2 separate regions of the Homo sapiens genome follow, and region 2 is reported to be linked to region 1. The links are microRNA targets in miRTarBase. Many come from high-throughput screens and were not tested one by one. Region 1 holds a microRNA gene; the other region holds the end of a gene's coding sequence.

Region 1 (9,752 bases):
TTTGCATTTTTTCTTCACCTCTCTGTTTGAACTGCAGTCTCGGTAAGAGGCTCATTAGGGGACATTAGGGACTGGAGCTAACCAGAATTCCAGAGCTTGCTTTGCTCTTATTAATGCATAGTAGAGTAGAATGCATTTAAATATTTCATAGGCATTCAGTAATTTGTGTGTAATCGCCTTGTTAGCAGACCAGTAGAAGTAGAACAGGCCTGTGAAATGGTGTTAGTGATTGCATGGGTAATTTACAGACCTTTGCCATCAGAAAAAGTATTATTGTTGGCTAGTATGAAGCTGTGAAATAGAACTACCAATAAGTAAAAAAAGAAACTTAATAAAGGTTTTGTAACAAGCATCTTCAGGGATAACAACCCCACTTGGTCCTTTTGAAGCAGCCGTAATTTATGACATAGGCAATATATCAAATGCATAAGATAGTATTATGGAGCATTCATATGAAAAGGGTATTTGCAACATTAGTTCCAACTTCCTGCAAGGGACATGATTAAATGATTAATGAAATGTCCCTTTGCATATGCATTTTGAAACAGCAATTAGGCACTGACTGAGAAAATCCACCAATCCTCTCATTTTTCAGTATTATCTCATTCTTGATTTATAAATCATAGAGAATTTTTGAACAGTAATATGTAGTACCTGAGATAGTTATAAAAACATAAAAGAGAATAATTTCGGCACAAAATAGTCATAAATTCATAAATTCATAATTTAATGTTAATACTTAGCCTATTTATTTAGTCTTATTACATTGTATTTATATCTGACACTATTTCTGTACTTTGATTGGCATAATTAAGTAGAGGGAATGAATAGGCACTATTCTTTTACATATCACTGGTAAACAATAGCGAGGAAAGGAGAAGGGAGATGTGGCAGAGGTATGTATGTGTTTTTCAAGTTCTCAGTAATCCACTGGAGGCTGTTCTATAAATGATCATTGAAGGGCTGCAAGCTAGCCTATAATTACAGGAAAGAAAGTGGCAGCTCTGGCATTTCATAACTATGTGTCCTCGAAAAGTGCTTTGTGAGTTTGTCACCAATGATAATTTAGATAGAGGCTCATTACTGAACATCACAACACTTTAAAAACCTTTCGCCTTCATACAGGAGAATAAAGGACTATTTTAATGGCAAGGTTCTTTTGTGTTCCACTGAAAAATTCAATCAAGACAAAACCTCATTGACTATTATTGTAGTCTACAGTCTCTATTCTAATAAAAGCTGCATAGATAAATTGAATAGGGCTCTAAGACCCAAGTATATAAAGCAAACATTTTGTACTTTTTTTAGTTCTTTAAATATAAGATCATGATTATCACTAAGCAGTAAACAAGTGTAGAAAATCATTTTAAAAAGTGATTTCACAAGAAAATGTTATAGTGACTATGCCTTTTATTGCAGACCTGTATGTTCTACTTATCTTGCTTCCTGCATTTACACCCTAATCTCAGTGTATAACTGAAGCATTTTTGAAAATATGCAACATTTTTTCTTATATGGAATAAATATGTTTGTGTTCCCCAAGAGTTCATGGTGAAAAAAAAAAAAATCTTACGGAAACACAGCAATATGAAGCCTTAAGAATACAACACACAACTGTATTATGCTGGTAGAAAATTGTCTTACTGTTCATTTAAATTTTGGGGGAAAAAACCCTGGGAAACAATTTTTAAATGTAGTCTTGTTATTTAGGAATTGGTGACACTTTCTGTTAACTAACCTCTGGCTTACTCTCACATTCCATACCTCCTTCCCAGAGAGCATGAGTGAATGTTAATCCTCCTCACAGGTTCACAGCAGAACAAACCTGAGCTGAGCTTAGAGAGCAGACAGGTATAGTGGAAGTGCCTCCCCTGCACTCCAGCCACACTCCTTCAGCTTGACCTTATCCACCTTGCTATTTTAGTCCACAGTTTCTCTTCAACCAAGACTGACATTGTGACAAGATACATGGAGGTTTTGTTGTTATGATCAATAAGGAAGTATTAAAACAAACTGGTTTAATTTATCAAGGTATAGGCAAAACAAAGGTTTCTGATTGTTGAACCTAGGTATATAAACAAATAAACCTTTTGTTTATAATAAAATTAGTTTTTATCAGCAACACGACTTTAATTACTCTTCATATGTTTTACATGTATGTGTCTTATATTTTTTCTGCCTCACTGTGATCTTCAAGAAATAAAAGTAAATAATTTGAATGGATACAAAAATATATTTGTTGAATTCAGTATACCCAGGGCTATTATAAACTTTTTAGACTATTATATCATTCTAAATGATACTTGAGCCCACTTGGGTAAATATATAAATTCTTATTTAATTTTGTGAATTTCTTTTCAATATGCCATTTCACTTATATGCAATGATGAGAACATCTCTGAAATTGTTGCCTTACTTTGCCCATTGGTGAAATAGATACACTAAAGGATATTGAATTACTTGAAGATTACTTTCTTTAATTTTGGGAAGCATCAAAGACATTATGTATTACAAATTACAGAGTATATATTATTAAATGTTTTCATGTTCATTGGAGATGCTGCTTTACTAAATTACTTTTGGTGTATTAACATACCACTCATTAAAGAGATCTCTTTAAACATCGTATAGAAATAATAATGGTAGACTAATGCATATTCAAGGTTAGAGTGAGATCATTTGGAATGATTTATTTTTCACCATTTTAAAAATAAGATTAGGACAAATGTCTCCTAGTTAGAACACTGGACATGAAATGTCAATCTTGTTATTCTAATGATCAAAATCTTCAATGAAGTTCTTTATTACTAACAGCAAATCATCATTCTTCATAAATATTGATTTTCCACGGGAGATAATTTGCCATCTTTACCTAATTCATACCACATCCCAATGAAATAAAACATTGCTCACTAAAATACATCATAGAAACAACAAACTGTTCTAACAATGAAATAGAAAATTGCCTTTGTTCTCTTCAGAATTGCTTTTGGTTCATAGATTTGTAAGCTGTTCTTTTTAAAAAAATGGCATAAATAATATGACTTCTACTATAACTCTGTAAATGGTCTGGGGAAATATTTTTTGTAATAACAGGTAAGCTTAGAGACAGTGACATTTTCTGCCATTTGAAGAGTCTCTTTACATTACATAAATAATTTTCACACAACACGTAAGCAGCTTTAACTTTTATCTGTATGGTTTCAAGGCTTTCTGTTTTCCCAGTGCACAGAAACATCTGACTTCAGTGTAGTGCTTTTTAAGTGTAGCCTATGCCACTAAGATCGACATCACTTTACATTCTGTTTTGTGTCTTCTGTTTGTTTAGGCACCTTAACAATGAACACGCATTGGATGACCGAAGCACTGCTCAGTGTCGAGTGCAAATGCAGGTGGTGCAACAGTTAGAAATACAGGTTTGTTAAATGCTCACTTAATGGACTCTTCTTAGATTTCTGGTGTGTTACATTGAGTACTGAGCAGATTCTGGGTCTTTCAGCCTGCATTTTACTGTCTTAGCCATTCAATACTAATGGAGATACATGATATTTTAGATTGTTTTAAACAGTGGCAATTATTGATAACCCAGGAAGGATTGCTGTAGTTTAATGTACTTATCACTTATATTTTTATAACTTTTAGACCACATCATATGAATTTGAATATCCCAAAGTAGTCAGATCTAAGTTTTTCCCAATGCAGGTTAGACCAAACTCCCAATTAGATATGATTTTATTACAGAGAGAGTTTTTACATGAGCTAACCTTGATTTTTTTCCATGAGATTTTATATTGTGGCAAATGACCAGTCTTTACAATATCATGCCTGTAATATAACTAACACCCTGAAAGATAACCTTTTCTTTTCTTTTTCTAGTGTAATTTTAATTAAAGAACTTGCAAAAAAATCTTTATACTTTTCTTTAGCTAGATTAAAGGCAGATAATTTATATCACAGATGATAATACACACATGTTGTATCAAATGCGACTGTTTTAAGTTAAAAAAAATTCTATTAATGTTGAAACAGAATTTGGCCAGAAGTAAATAGAATCCATAGAACTAATCAGAAAGCAATTATGTCACCCAAAGTCTGACTCTTGTTATGTTTTACTAAGCCTTTAAGGCTTTCTCTAACATTTCATCTTAAAGATGATCTTTTCTCAATGAAACTAATACTTTGTTTCATTTAAAGATACGATTTTTCTTCATATTTTATTACATCTTGTTTCAAATTCGTGTCATTGCTTTTTTCAGAGAGCTTACTAAAAATATTTTGTTTTGACTTGTAAAATAATCAAGAACACAAAAAGCACCATCACTGTTAAAGTTTAAAAAGCTTTTTATAAACCTGTTTACCATTTATAAAAGGTAGACTAAAACATAAGAGTTCAGCTGATGATACAGTCTTCGGTGTGACCAATTACGCCTATTTTTTTTTTTTCCTTCTGCTGTGTCTGACTGATGGAAAAGTAAGGTCCGTCAGTTGTAATGAGACCCAGTGCAAGTGTAGATGCCGACTCCGTGGCAGAGTTCAGCGTTTCACACTGCCTGGTCTCTGTCACTCTATTGAATTAGATTGATGATGGCAGATTGCAGGGGGCACTAACTGGACCTCAGTGGGAATGCATGAAGTGTGTAGACAATCCTGGCAGGCACTTTGCTTTGAGAACCCTTCACCCCTTCACAGCTGTTGGCACTAGTCCATTGCTAACAGTGTCCACAGGACTTTAAAGAGACACCATGGGCCTTCTAATTTATGGTTTCAGTAACTTGTTACTGTCGAGGCAACTGTGACCTCAATTCTCTTATTGACAAAAAGATGAAGTGTTATTTGTTTTCTCTGACCTTTTAACATAAGAAAAGCTATAAAAGTTTTTCCCCCTCCATAGCTAAAGTTGCATTTCCTCCCAGATAAGTTCCTCCTGACGCAGACTTTTACATGCAGGAATCATTATTCTGAGGCAAGCTCAATGATAAGATGTATCACTGCAATAAAATAGCTGTATCAGTCATTTCTAAAACGCTTCTGATCTCACTCTTTCTTAACAGCTTTCTAAAGAACGCGAACGTCTTCAAGCAATGATGACCCACTTGCACATGCGACCCTCAGAGCCCAAACCATCTCCCAAACCTGTAAGTGCATATTGCTTTATAAACAGTAAATAGCTCTACCAATGTAACAGACTAAGAAAATGAACAATTTAGTGACAGTTAGAAAACAATGAGTGTGATGAAAAATACGGCAATAAAATGAAAGTAAAATGTAATCGCTTGTCAAATTGTATGTTTCTTTTAAAGTAATGCTATCTTTTACAAAATCTATCCAATCTACACCATGGGTGACACTAAACAAAGTACACCTATCAGTGCACAAATCACTGCCTTGGGGCTGAAGCCAGAGAGAATTTCTTTCTGTGATAGGTTTACAGATATTAAAAGGAAACCCTCTTTGAGCAACCTGAAAAGTAGTAACGTACAAATCACAAATAGAAATGTATGTGGTGTGCTGAAGAAGGCAGATCAATCATAAGATACATATAAATAGATTTTTATCAAATATTTTGTCATAAAGGTCATGGTATTTTTATAGCCAATTTTGTCCTATTTCTTTGGTTATTTCAGTTAAGATGTATTTCACATATTGATATGTTTTATTGTACATTATACATAATGTTAATTTAGAGAGCTTATCACAAAAAGAAGTGGGTGATTATAGAAAATTAAGACTAGTTTCCCTCAAAAATATATGAGATTTAAGCTCAACCTAATAATGTAGTCAGATACACAGACTGTTGAAAAGAATATACTTTATCTCATTCAGCTGATGTTTGCACAGAAACTTAGAGTAATCAACTGGGTAACTCTAGTTTAATGAAAGTTTGTGGGATACTTTTTAATAAGGCCCCTGTATAGCCTGATGATTAATGATTGCCAGTCTTGCCTCTCCCTCTATTTCTTTAGGTAAAAAACGAACATTTGGCTTTGTAGTTGGGGAGGAGACAGAAGACGACTATATTGTCTAATTTTCTCGTAATGTCTCGATATTTCTTATCAATTAATATCATTCAAAATTTACTTTTTTGGTAGAGATTATATTTAAACTCTGCTAAGCTATTTCTGCTTTTCCTTTGTACTGTATTTAAAGGTAGAGTACTGTAAAAACATTTTTATAGGAAGAAAAAAGACATGTATCTTTTTGAATCTGACATACTACTTTTTAAACTCTAAAATGTCTGAGTTTTTAATTAAAAAATAAACTTTTGAGGATATTTTTGATCATGTATTTATGACTATCTTTTCAATAAGATTTTTTCCCTCATTGCTTCTATAGTATAATGTAGATAATCACAAGACAGAATAATTGTCTCATAAATCCATCAGGAATCTGCAGCTTGTTCTTTTCCAATTAATTATTCAATCAGTAAATTTTTTAAAACTCCAGCAGCATGGTTACATCTACACTAATAAAGAATTTTCAGCCTATAATCCAAAACAGAACCTGAATGAATAATGTAATTGAAGTATTACATTACATAAACCACACATGAAAGAATTGCTAATTGCGTTTGATGGTGGGCAATTAATACAGAATCTTAGATGAGCGATTTAAAATGAAACCACAGTTTAAAGTTCCCTTTGGAACTAGCGATATCTGAAGTGAGGAACTGCACTATTGGCCTCAGATCGGTTTGAAAGAAGAGTGGTCAATACTCACAACCCTCAAAAAAACCCTAAAATTTATACACTGTACAAAAGAAGCTTCAAAATTGATATGATAGTAGAGATTTATGGTCTCATGTGCAGTGGCTCAGTTGAGACGGCCCACACATTTGATAAATATTAATAGCATGAATTTATTACCAAGGAGAAATGAGCTCTGTTGGTTCATCACTGCACCCTTAACAGCTATCAGTACATGAACACAAGGTGCAACCGCACTGTCTATTATATGACCCCATTTACTCTCTGAATGGTACTTCATTAAATGGTACCTTTTGGCCATGCTATGGATGGATGAAAATCAAAGTTATCAAGGCTGCGAGTCCTGAATAATGAGTTTCACCCAACCTTGACTATATTCAGATGAGTCGAGGTGGCTAAGTGCTCATCCTAGCTTTTACATGCTTCCCTTTAGTTAATAATAAATTCTATTTTATCAGTTTGTGATTGTACGCCTACAAACATGGTATGCTTATTATTACAGGATAGCAGAATAAGTTACCGTAACATTGTAAACATGAGTGGTTTGCATTGAAAAAGATGTATTTCTCCTGTTTTGATAACTTTTAATGTGTTGGTAAAATGTACAGAGTCCTGTCACATATTCATCAGGATAGATATTTCATTGATTTGCAATTTGGTATTTTCTGGGTTCTGAATGTGCCATTTTGTTCTGGTTTGCAATTCTAAAAGTGAATATGTAACCATCCAGCTGAGTTTTTTTTTTTTATGTATGGGGAAATACTTTTCTTTTCTTTTCATATTTTTAACATACAAGTATGTAATGCTGATATTTTCTAAATATAACATTGTTATGTATATGTTCTGATGTTGATATTTTAGAATATTTGCAAAGTCACATACAGATGCATATGGATGTTTCTGCGTTTCTCAAACTATGCAGAGGTGCTCTTGTACATCCCAGAGAAGCTTACACCAGTGGCTTTGTAAATGTATTAAATGCAGCATTTAGGAGCATTATCTCAGCTTTCATTTATGTACGTAACAAAGAATTCCCTACCCAGTCTGCTGGCTTAGAGTATGAACAGAATAACAGTTTGTGGTTTATTGGGAACAGATGCACTTGGGGATGCCTTCAGGGTGCCAGTCGTTATTATTAGACTGCTAATGTGCTTCTTCTGGCTGCTGCCCAAGAAAGAAGAACAATTAGCTGGCATATGTTAATTTTTGTTTCCCTAACAAATCTCTCTACTGACTAAATGTGTAAAACAAATCCACAAAGAAAGATCAATCAATGCTGTACACATCATTTTCTCCCCATTAAAAAAAGGTTTATCTTAAGAAGTGTATTTGGGATTTAAAAAGACAGGTGTTACTAAATTATAAACAAAAGCTGAATATTCTCTATTTAGCCACTCAGCAGTTACTTTATAGAGAAACAGAACAATTAGAATTAGTTTTCTTGCTTGGTTGTATAGCCTACTGTATAAAGTAAAAAGGACCACAGATTACCTCTTGTGAATACCATTTAAATGTATGGCAGAAATCTTTTTATGTGCTGCCCTGCGTAAAAATTTTGCTAATTGGATGCTATTTATGACAAAAGATGTGTGGTAAATATGACAGAGGTGATATGAGTTTTTTGATAATGAAGAACAGGGCCTTTCTGAGGGGAGTAATGAAGGGCACACTGTTAAACAGCTTGCATACATTCTCACCTTTTTTCTTTTTTCTACCCTGACACCCACTTTCCAGGGTACATCAGCATTAAGTGACACTGTAATCATAAATTGAAAATGATACTTCCAGAGGAATTGGCAAACTTGACATTTCATTATATTTGTTAACACATGCCACAAATGATTGTTAGTGAGGAAATTCCATTTCCCTCTCTCCATCTCCAATCAGATTTAATTTGAAAATTTTCAGCCTCCTCCGGCTAATTTGCAATTAAGACAATTTTGTTTGAATATGTAGTAATGTCATTACCATTCCACCAAATTAGCAAGGAGACTAAAGGTCAGTGTAAAATTTTCCAGCTGGCTGGAGCCTCTCAGCTGAGATTTGGGACTACGAAAAAAAAAATTCTGGCATCAACAGAATAGCAACTTACTTTAAATCCTATTGGTTAAAAACATTGCATCCTTCATTATTGCTGTTGTTGTTGCTTCACTGGGGGCTAGACCTGTTTAACAACAGGGGCAGTCGATAATCAGCAACTGGCTTTTATTTAAGGAAATAGACTTTCGCTGAAGTCTGGTAGGACAAGAAGGAGTTAGTCCTAAGTAACATTGCAGTAGATTATTAGATAACCTCTAACAGAATCCTCTAATTAGAGTTCTTATGATACAATTTCATCCTGTAATTAGTTGAGATTGGCTGCTTCCTTTTGCAGCTTATTAGTGGCAACACAGCTGTAGAAGTGAATCCACTCTCATTTGTCAAACCTTTTTAAGTCTTTTTCTCTTGTCTCTACCTTTTTCCTGCCCTTCTCTTGGGCCTTTGCAGCTAAATCTGGTGTCTAGTGTCACCATGTCGAAGAATATGTTGGAGACATCCCCACAGAGCTTACCTCAAACCCCTACCACACCAACGGCCCCAGTCACCCCGATTACCCAGGGACCCTCAGTAATCACCCCAGCCAGTGTGCCCAATGTGGGAGCCATACGAAGGCGACATTCAGACAAATACAACATTCCCATGTCATCAGGTAGGATATGAATGCTCAGTAGAGCACTTTTACTTTGGGAGAGGAAAACTGTAGCTGAATCAACTGTACATGAGCCATTCCAGAGCACATGGAAACTCATGTCATGATTTATGGAGTGATAATTGTTTTATTCCTGGTAAATGCGAATAGGGGCGATTCCCTAAGCACATCATGATGAATTGTTCTGAATGGTTGTTCAGGAAAGAAAGCTCTCCCCATTAGAGACACTGAGAGATGTCAGGATAGCCCATATTATCACCTCAATTCAATGAGATCCTTTGATCTCTGAGGGAAGACTAGCAATCCAACATCTGTGAGTAATGCTGTAGAGAAGAGCCATTTTAAAGGACATATACGAA
Region 2 (9,682 bases), not on the chromosome of region 1:
CAGTAGAGGCCGGTGGCGGGTGGCGGGTGGGGGCCCGGGTGCTGCCCCAGTCCACCTCCTGGGTTGCGGCTGCTAGGCGGTGGCTCCGGGTGACTGTGTGCTGTCTGTGTTCCAGTGTTTGTGGGCTACCTGTGCATCGTGCTGCTCATGCTGCTGCTGCTCATCTTCTGGATCGCGCCGGCCCATGGGCCCACCAACATCATGGTCTACATCAGCATCTGCTCCTTGCTGGGCAGTTTCACCGTGCCTTCCACCAAGGGCATCGGGCTGGCGGCCCAAGACATCTTGCATAACAACCCGTCCAGTCAGAGAGCCCTCTGCCTGTGCCTGGTACTCCTGGCCGTGCTCGGCTGCAGCATCATCGTCCAGTTCAGGTACATCAACAAGGCGCTGGAGTGCTTCGACTCCTCGGTGTTCGGGGCCATCTACTACGTCGTGTTTACCACGCTGGTCCTGCTGGCCTCAGCCATCCTCTTCCGGGAGTGGAGCAACGTGGGCCTGGTGGACTTCTTGGGGATGGCCTGTGGATTCACGACCGTCTCCGTGGGGATTGTCCTTATACAGGTGTTCAAAGAGTTCAATTTCAACCTTGGGGAGATGAACAAATCTAATATGAAAACAGACTAGATTGCAATAGGAGCTTGGATGGTTCGAGGAATAGGCATTGGAGGTGGTTTCTGGCCGTGATTGGATGTGAAGTAGAAGAGGTCCTCGATCATGGTGTTAGAATTGACTGGATAGTAACAGGTGGTCTGGTGGATAGCGGGGAGCATGGCTCAGCACCAGAGCAGAGGCCCAGCCAGCCCTCTGCAGCCCAAACGTCCCCAACGGTTGCCTGGCACCATCTCTCTCTGATGAGACGAATCTCATTTTCATTTCCATTAACCTGGAAGCTTTCATGAATATTCTCTTCTTTTAAAACATTTTAACATTATTTAAACAGAAAAAGATGGGCTCTTTCTGGTTAGTTGTTACATGATAGCAGAGATATTTTTACTTAGATTACTTTGGGAATGAGAGATTGTTGTCTTGAACTCTGGCACTGTACAGTGAATGTGTCTGTAGTTGTGTTAGTTTGCATTAAGCATGTATAACATTCAAGTATGTCATCCAAATAAGAGGCATATACATTGAATTGTTTTTAATCCTCTGACAAGTTGACTCTTCGACCCCCACCCCCACCCAAGACATTTTAATAGTAAATAGAGAGAGAGAGAAGAGTTAATGAACATGAGGTAGTGTTCCACTGGCAGGATGACTTTTCAATAGCTCAAATCAATTTCAGTGCCTTTATCACTTGAATTATTAACTTAATTTGACTCTTAATGTGTATATGTTCTTAGATTAGAATAATGCAACTTCGAGTATGCTTTAATATTTCAATATTCAAGTTACAAATGTATAAGGCAGTTAGAAATAATACAGTCACATGTCACTTAATGATAGGGAAACATTCTGAGAAATGCATTGTAAGGTGACTTTATTGTGTGAACATCATGGAGTGCACTTATACAAACCTAGATGGGACACCTATGACCCACCCAGGCCAGATGGTACAGCCTGTTGCTCCTGGGCCACACACCTGTACAGCATGTGACCGCACTGAATACCGCAGGCAATTGTAACACAGTGGTGAGTATTTGTGTTTACAAACATAGGAAAGGTACAGTAAAACTATGGTATTACAATGTTATGGGACCACCGTCATGTAAGTGGTATGTCTTTGACAGAAACATGGTTACGTGGTTCATGACTGTATATTCACTGGAAGATAGTCAAGACTAAAGACACATTAGAGCAAATTGACCCCTTTAACATGTGATTATTGTCCAATTAAAGACAGTTGATTTAAGTAGCATGAGGTATTATTTTATTTGTATTCGATCTGTGTTACCTGGGATCCAGTATCAAATATATCCACATTCTTTATCAGCAAGCATTCATGGCCATTCAGAAGAAATAAATTAGGTAACTTGATAATAAGGCTAAGTGGGAGAGTACCTGTTCAATAGCTCATATATCGAGTACCCTGTCATACAGGAACAAGTTAAAGGACACAATTGAGGTTAGGCTAGCTTCTACAAATTGCAATATGCAGTTTTTGAAAGATTTTCTAACAAAAAGCCAATAAATGTAGCCATCTCCTTGTTGTTTGCAATGGCAGAGCATCCTAGAGTTCCTCAGCTAACCTCTCATTATGTGTCTTAAATGCAAAAGAGCCATTAATTATGCCAGTATTTGAATCAAAGAGGTCATTCTCTGTCTATAGTGTTCCCATCCATGTGTTCCAAATGGGAGCATAGCATGAAGTGATGCACATATTTCACCACGGTATCATGTACTTCATGGCCAGTGTTTTATCTCAGCAGGGAACTACGCCAAGTTGAAAGATGGGGTTGGGTAAAGTAGATTAGGTGAAGTAGAACATAAAATTGAATAGTACCCAATTAAAGTTCCTCAGTAAGAAAAAAAATGTGTTTTTGTAGGCAAAAAGAACATTTCTAAAGTCTCAAGGAATAGCTTCCTAAAGTGTTGAGTAAAGAGGCTAAATAAAATGAGACTAGTTTAATATAGAGAGAAAAATACCTTTATGGAGTAAACGTGTACATGATGATCATGGGTTGTCAGTGATTTGTGAACTGAGAGCAGCAACAACATTATTTTTTAAAAATCTTAAATCCTCTCAATGGATGGTTAACAAATGCTCAAAGTCCATTACTCTTTTTATTGGCTCTTGCAGGTTTTGTGTTTTATCATCAGTGCTTTTAGAAATGCAGGCCTTAACTTACTGAACTGAACTTTCTGAAAACGTAATGTAGCAGTATCAATATACTTTTGGGCATAAAAATAGTTTCCTAGGTAAGGGGTGTGAGATATTCAAAGAATACATGTGGCTAACAAGTGTAATGAGAAAGTTCATGTGTCACATGAAAATGATCATGTTTGTGTTGCTACAGCTTTTGTGGGAAATTTAGTTTAAAGGCAGCTCTTGGTGTACCTTAGTATATTTTAATCCACAATTATACCATTGATACTGAGAGGTGATACCCGATGATCTTCTCTATAATATTCTTAGAGTAAAACAAAATCTCAAAAGTATTAATAGCTCTTCTACCCTTGAAGGTGACTGGTCCTGGGACAGTTAGAATCTTTCAGGTTTACCTCTGTTCAGCAGATACTTCAGTAGGATACATAGCTTTTCTTCCAGTGAAACAAAGTTCATATCATCCATTGTTTTTCAAGCACGTGACACCAGCCTCAAAGTAAATGACATGACCAGTGGTTGAACAGTCTAATTTTCAAATTTAATATAGAGCATATAACTTCTGATTTGATAGTATTTATTTTAAAAAATTATGTTTTCATCATTCATTTGAAAATGAAAAAGCCCCAAAGTGAGAACTTTGGGGGAGGGCCTAGAACATGGATAGATCTCTTAGTGGTCTTTCCAAAAGTACATGTACTTGAAATATTTTCATTATCATACTATTCTTTGAAAAAAAAGATGCTTACTGTATACTTGTTTTCAAGCATCCTCTAAAATCAAAGGTTTTGATCACAATATGCAGATTTCTCTTGATAGATACTTAAATAGGCTATTTCTCTCCTCTTCTTGGGCAATGCCTTGTTTTCTCCTCTGAATATTTGCATTTGAAAGGATTGCTTCCTGTTCTGCTCATTGATCAAAGGTAGGGCCAATTAAGGATTCTAACCCTAACCCAGCACCACAAAGCCCCCCTGGAGCATCTTCCCGGCTGGCAGGACCATGCCATCTCTGTGGAGAAGGTGCTGGGGAGGGAAGTCCTTCCAGTGCCACATGGAGTGAGGCCCTGCCCATGCTGGGGACTTTGGGGAGGAATTTGGTATTCTGGTGGCCTTGCTCAGCTCTCATTGAGATCTTTTCCTATCAGAATGTTAGTGAATATACTTCGCAGCTCTTTGTTCAGCAATAAGGAATATTCTTTCAATTCCTGCTCTTCAAGCCAATTTACTACACCCAGTTGTCTTTCCAGAAGTTCATCCCAGCGGTAATATGTTGGTGTTTGTTCTTCTTTGGATTTCACATCTGTTTTCTGGTAGAAGTGAGCACTGTTCACTTGTGCAGTCGTCTTATTTTCCTTCTTCCTAGATGACTCAGCTCTTTGTAAATGTTGTGCTCAACTTCTAGGGGCCAGTTCTAGACTTTGGAGATGCAGTGTCTCCCAGGTGTGCACGGACACCTGGTCCGTGGAAACAGGTGTGATGGGCACAGGCTGCTGCCCTTCTGTCTGGTCGGGGGATTCCTCTTCTTCAAGCTGCTCAGCTAACCCAGAAGAGGGGAGAGAGTACTCCGGTGGTTCCCAGAGCCCCTCCCGTTGTGCCGCTTCGACCTGACACCTGCTCGATGCTGACTTAGGCTTCCTGCCACCAAGCAGGAAACTAGAAAGAGAACATTTCAGTGTAAGGTCTGTTCCCGACAGCATGGATTAGCTTCCGTGTTCTGAAGTTGTTCTTTTCATGGTGTCTGACACCGAGGGCGTTGTTCGTCCATCAGGCGGGATTGGATGGAGTCTTGGTGTTTTGCCTTCTCAGGGACCAAAAATGTATCATTGACTCCTTAACAGTGACCTTCCTCCCAAGGACATATCCGTGTTCATTTTTCATAGGTTTTACTCATATTCATAGGTAGATTCTGTTAATGTGAGTTGGAAAGAAAAGACCAATTTGTACACCAGTCACACCACAAGACAGTTTATCATATAAAATACCTCAATTTTTTGTATTCCTCATTTCCACCTCACAATTGTACTGGTGATGAATTTTAAGGGTCTGTCCTTTAGCTTATAGGTGATGTTTCACATCTGGCCAGATTCTTATACCTCCATTGTATACTTGAAAAGGTTCAGAATTACAGGAACAGCAGTGAGAATTTGGCCCACTACCACGACTCATTTGTTTCATTCACATTCCTCACGTGCAACAACATAATTATATTTTAAGAAAATGTAACTTTGTTACATCAAAATATGTTGTCTAGTAAAAAGTTGATATTCAGTAGAACAAGGATCATGTAAATAAACATCTATTTCACATGTACCCAAAAGCATTTAAAAAGCAGAATCCAGGGCCCAGAGCATGAGCCAGGGAGGAGGATGTTTTTCTTCTTTTCTCTATTTTTCCCTAAATTGTGCAAACATAGGTGAGTCTCTTAACCTTTCTGTGCCTCAGTTTTTCTACCTCTAAAGGGGTGGGATGGTTCTTCAAATTGTTTCTAAAACACCGGCACTTTCAGCAGTGTTCTGGTGGCCTGAGATGAGAGCACCGTGTTCAGAAGTGCCTGGGAGTGGCACAGTGGAAACTCCGCTTGCACGGACCATGGAGTCTGCTCAGGACCATGCTGTAGGACACACAGCCTCATGCGCTGAGAAAGCAAAGGAAGTGCTGGGTGTAAAGTTTGCATGATTCCATGAAGCTTTAGTTTTCCTTTTTTTGTTTTAAAAGAAAGGGTTTTATATGTTCTATTGTAAAATATGGAAATTAAACAGGGACTTCAGAAAGCCGCACAGAAAGATCACCTTCCGATGGTGTGATGTGCTCCTGACATTCGGCCGAGGTCTGTATTCTGAAAAAGATTTAATGGCCTGTGAAACACGTGGATTCTGTTGCACTGGATTTGTAATAAATGACGCTGAACTTCCTGCTTCCAAGCAGCTCAACCCTGATGCTGAACTGACACCAGGCGAATGTCAGGGCTCCCAAACCACTAGTGCCAAAGGGTCATGTTGAAAAGTTCAGAATATTTATTTGTCAGAATATAATAATTGCCCCCCACCTTAGTATTTTTGCACTTTACAGAAATTTAGATACTGTTTTTCAGTGGCTTGAGCGTTTTGCCTTTTCAAAGGATAACTATTATTTTCTTGAAAATGGAATATAATCATGAGAGGAAGAAGATGTAAAAAATGTCAAATGTTGATTGGTTGTGTAAAAGTTTTGTCATAGACATGTATTGGGGAGCTTCCAATTAGCATACATAGACACATGTGTCAGTGGCCAAGACCTGCTTATATTTTGCTTTATAGATGTAGTCATAGCATGTTGTTATTGCCTCATGTAAATAAAAAGGCTATTAAGTTTTCCAGTAATATTTATTAATCTGTATGTGTTTTAAAATAAAATAACTTATTTCTAGCTGAACATTTGTTGATTTTTTTTTTTCCCTTTACTTGAAATGCTTATGTAGTCTCAGGTTCCAGATCATCCCAGTTCCTCCCATTTTTCCTATTCTCTTTTTAGAAATGAGTAGCCTAGGCTGGGTGCAGTGGCTCATGCCTGTAATCGCAGCACTTTAGGGGGCTGAGGCGGGTGGGACACTTGAGGCCAGGAGTTTGAGACCAGCCTGGTCAACATGGTAAAACCCCATCTCTACTAAAAAATAACAAAAATTAGACAGGCATGGTGGTGCACATCTGTAGTCCCAGGTACTCAGCAGGCTGAAGCAGGAGAATCACTTGAACTTGGGAGGCAGAGGTTGCAGTGACCGAGATCACAGCACTGCACTCCAGCCTGGACAACAGAGCGAGACTCCATCTCAAAAAAAAAAAAGACAGAAATGACTAGCCTCTAGATCTCTATAACAATGTAGAAAATGTCTACCTGTGGGCCAGGTGTGGTGGCTCACACCTGTAATCCCAGTGCTTTGGGAGGCTGAGGCGGGCGGATCACCTGAGGTCGGGAGTTTGAGAGTAGCCTGACCAACATGGAGAAACCCTGTCTCTGCTAAAAATACAAAATTAGCCAGAGGTGGTGGTGCATGCCTGTAATCCCAGCTACTCAGGAGGCCGAGGCAGGAGAATCACTTGAACCTGAGAGGCAGAGGTTGCAGTGAGCCGAGATCACACCATTGCACTCCAGCCTGGGCAACAAGAGCAAAACTCCGTCTCAAAAACAAAACAAAACAAAACAAAAAAGGCCAGGTGCGGTGGCTCACGCCTATAATCCCAGCACTTCAGGAGGCCAAGGCAGGCAGATCACGAGGTCAGGAGTTCGAGACCAGCCTGGCCAACATGGTGAAACCCCGTCTCTACTAAAAATACAAAAATTAGTTGTGCGTGGTGGTGTGTGCCTGTAATCCCAGCTACTCCAGAGGCTGAGGCAGGAGAATCACTTAAACCCGGGAGGTGGAGGTTGCAGGGAGCCGAGATCGTGCCACTGCACTCTAGCCTGGACGACAAGAGCGAAACTCCGTCTTGGAAAAAAAAAGAAAAAGAAAAAGAAACCGTCTACCTGTGCATCTACCTTAGGGAGCAAATCCATGATGTATGCAGAAATTCCCTGTCCTGCGACTGTCTCTTGATCCAATGAAGTGATAGTATTAAATAAAACCAGCTCTATTTTAATATGTTAGTACCTTTGACATGTTTTTGAGTTGTATAACATATCATTTTACATTTTTAGCCCATAGAAAATGAGACAATTATAACGCATTTTCATACTTCAAGCATCATTAGAAATCTTGTTGCTGATCTTCTTTAGTGTCCTATAATTTTCTTTGTTTTGGTTTTTTTTTTTTTTTTTGAGAGACAGGGTCTCACTCTCTTACAGTCATAGCTCACTGCAGCCTCAAACTGCTGGGCTCAAGCGACCCTCCTGCGTCAGCCTCCCCGGTAGCTAGGACTACAGGCCTGTGCCTCCACACCTGGGTAATTTTTTAATTTTTTTGTAGAGACAGGGTCTAGTTATGTTGCTCAGACTGGTGTCCTATAAGTTATTTTATCAAATGAGAAAAAATGAGTAAGATTTTTTTCTTAGTCTCTATCCCAAAAGATTTAATTATTCACATTTTGATCAAAGTATACTTATACAGAAAACAAGAACAAACATTTTATGAAATCACCAAATGCATCTATGGATAACTCCAGATAGGTTTTTGGGGCTGTGAAGTGTATTAATGCCAAATTCTGCTGTCATTGAACAAAAGCTTGCATTGGTTGGTTACTACTATAGAGTAGTTTGTGCTGGCTGCTAGCCAAGCCTTCCCTGCAAGGGACTTGTTCTAGAATTTCTGTGTTGCTTAGTTACATCCATCCCATCCATCTGATGACCCTTCGTTTTGACATTGTCAGCATGTTTGTTGTAGTATTAGTCACACTTACTTGTTCACCATTAGTTTGAATCTCACATGATAGTTTTAAAAAGGTTTTTAGTTGGAGAGGTGAGACACAGACAAGAAACAGATATAAAAGATCTAGGTACCTCTGCAGCCAGGCACAGTGGCTCACGCCTGTAATCCCAGCACTTTCGGAGGCCAAGGCCGGTGGATTACCTGAGGTCAGGGGTTTGAGACCAGCCTGACCAACATGGAGAAACCCCCGTCTCTACTAAAAATACATAATTAGCTGAGCGTGGTGGTGCACGCCTGTAATCCCAGCTATTCGGGAGGCTGAGGCAGGAGAATTGCTTGAACCCGGGAGGCAGAGGTTGCGGTGAGCTGAGATCACGCCACTGCACTCCAGCCTGGGCAGCAAGAGCGAAACTCCGTCTAAAAAAAAAAAGATCTAGGTACCTCTCTATTACCAGTCCAAAGAGGACAGGATTCATTCCAGCCGAGCACATGAGAAAGAGGTGTGGAACTGGATGGTGGCAAGCAGGACAGCGGTGGTGGTGACCAAGTAAACATAATGAGTGTGAAAATCACTGAGATGATGGACCAGAGGGTGGAGAGAAGGTCAGACCAGGTTGCTCATCTATAACACTGAATCTGTTTTATTTTTGACAAAGACATTGGGGGGATCCCAGCATCTTCTCCTTCCCTTAATTTGGCATACTTATTGTGTTAGTTTTTTATTACGGCTCTTCACAAGTTACATACCTTGTAGCTTAAAACAACACACGCGTATCATCTTACAATTCTGGAGGTTAGAAGTTCCACACAAGCTTTGCTGGGCTAAAATCAAGGTGCAGACAGGATTACTTCCCTCTGGAGGCTCCTGGGAAGAGTCTCATCCCTGCTCTTTTGGTTTCTAGAGGCCGCCTTTGTATCTTGCCTCGTGGCTCCTTCCTCCATCTTTGAAGCCAGCAATGTCATCTCTCTCGCCACTCATCCATCATCATAGCTTACTCTCTGACTCTGACACTCCTGTCACCCTCTTGGAAGGACCTTCATGACTGCTTTGGGCCCACATGGACAATCCAGGGTCAGCTCCCTCTCTCAAGATCCTTAGTTGCCTCTGCAGAGCCCCTTTTGCCATGGAAGGTGGCACAGTCACAGGTTACAAGGTGAGGACGTGGATATCTTTGGGCTTTCTGCTTACCACATCCACTTACCATTTTACCAAGTGAGGCAGTTCACAAAAGCCAACTCCTGGCTTTTAATCACTATCCCACTGTTCTACCTCAATTCACCTTGAGTTATTCCTATATTTTTCAGAAAGTTTCTCCCTGCTCACCCCCAACAAATGTTTTGGAAAATGCCCTACTACATTTGTAGGTCATTGATGGCCTTGAATAAACCAAATAATATTAATTGAAAAGTATTCATATAATAGAAATGCTTTAAAATGGCAGGGAATTATTGGGGAACCTGCCCCGATAGTCACGTAGGTTCTTTTCTATTTTCCCTAAGCATCAGCCGGTTTGAGAAATAAAGGGACAGAGTACAAAAGGGAGAAATTTTAAAGCTGGGCGTCCGGGGGAGACATCA

The links. Region 1 holds the annotated microRNA hsa-miR-3666 (CAGUGCAAGUGUAGAUGCCGA, at 4,499-4,519, shown strand). A microRNA usually pairs through its seed, bases 2 to 8, with sites in the 3' UTR of a target mRNA and lowers its output. Matches are read on the target gene's strand: a 7mer-m8 pairs with bases 2 to 8, a 7mer-A1 pairs with bases 2 to 7 and ends in A, and an 8mer does both.
Region 2: the mRNA of NIPA1 is a reported target of hsa-miR-3666. Seed matches in the 3' UTR shown: 7mer-m8 at 5,643-5,649 and 7mer-m8 at 5,823-5,829.

The regions. Positions count from the first base shown.
Region 1 is chr7:114,648,875-114,658,626 of GRCh38, forward strand. It overlaps MIR3666 (microRNA 3666), which reads left to right and starts at 4,471; the gene lies at 4,471-4,581. FOXP2 (forkhead box P2) reads left to right here. Exons shown (of 17, transcript NM_014491.4): 9 at 3,329-3,416; 10 at 5,052-5,135; 11 at 9,192-9,393. RefSeq lists an enhancer at 6,180-7,444.
Region 2 is chr15:22,823,613-22,833,294 of GRCh38, forward strand. It overlaps NIPA1 (NIPA magnesium transporter 1), which reads left to right. Exons shown (of 5, transcript NM_144599.5): 5 at 116-6,177. The coding sequence ends at 627. Among named protein-coding and RNA genes, the nearest start is that of NIPA2, 10 kb to the right of the region's middle. RefSeq lists an enhancer at 3,277-4,029.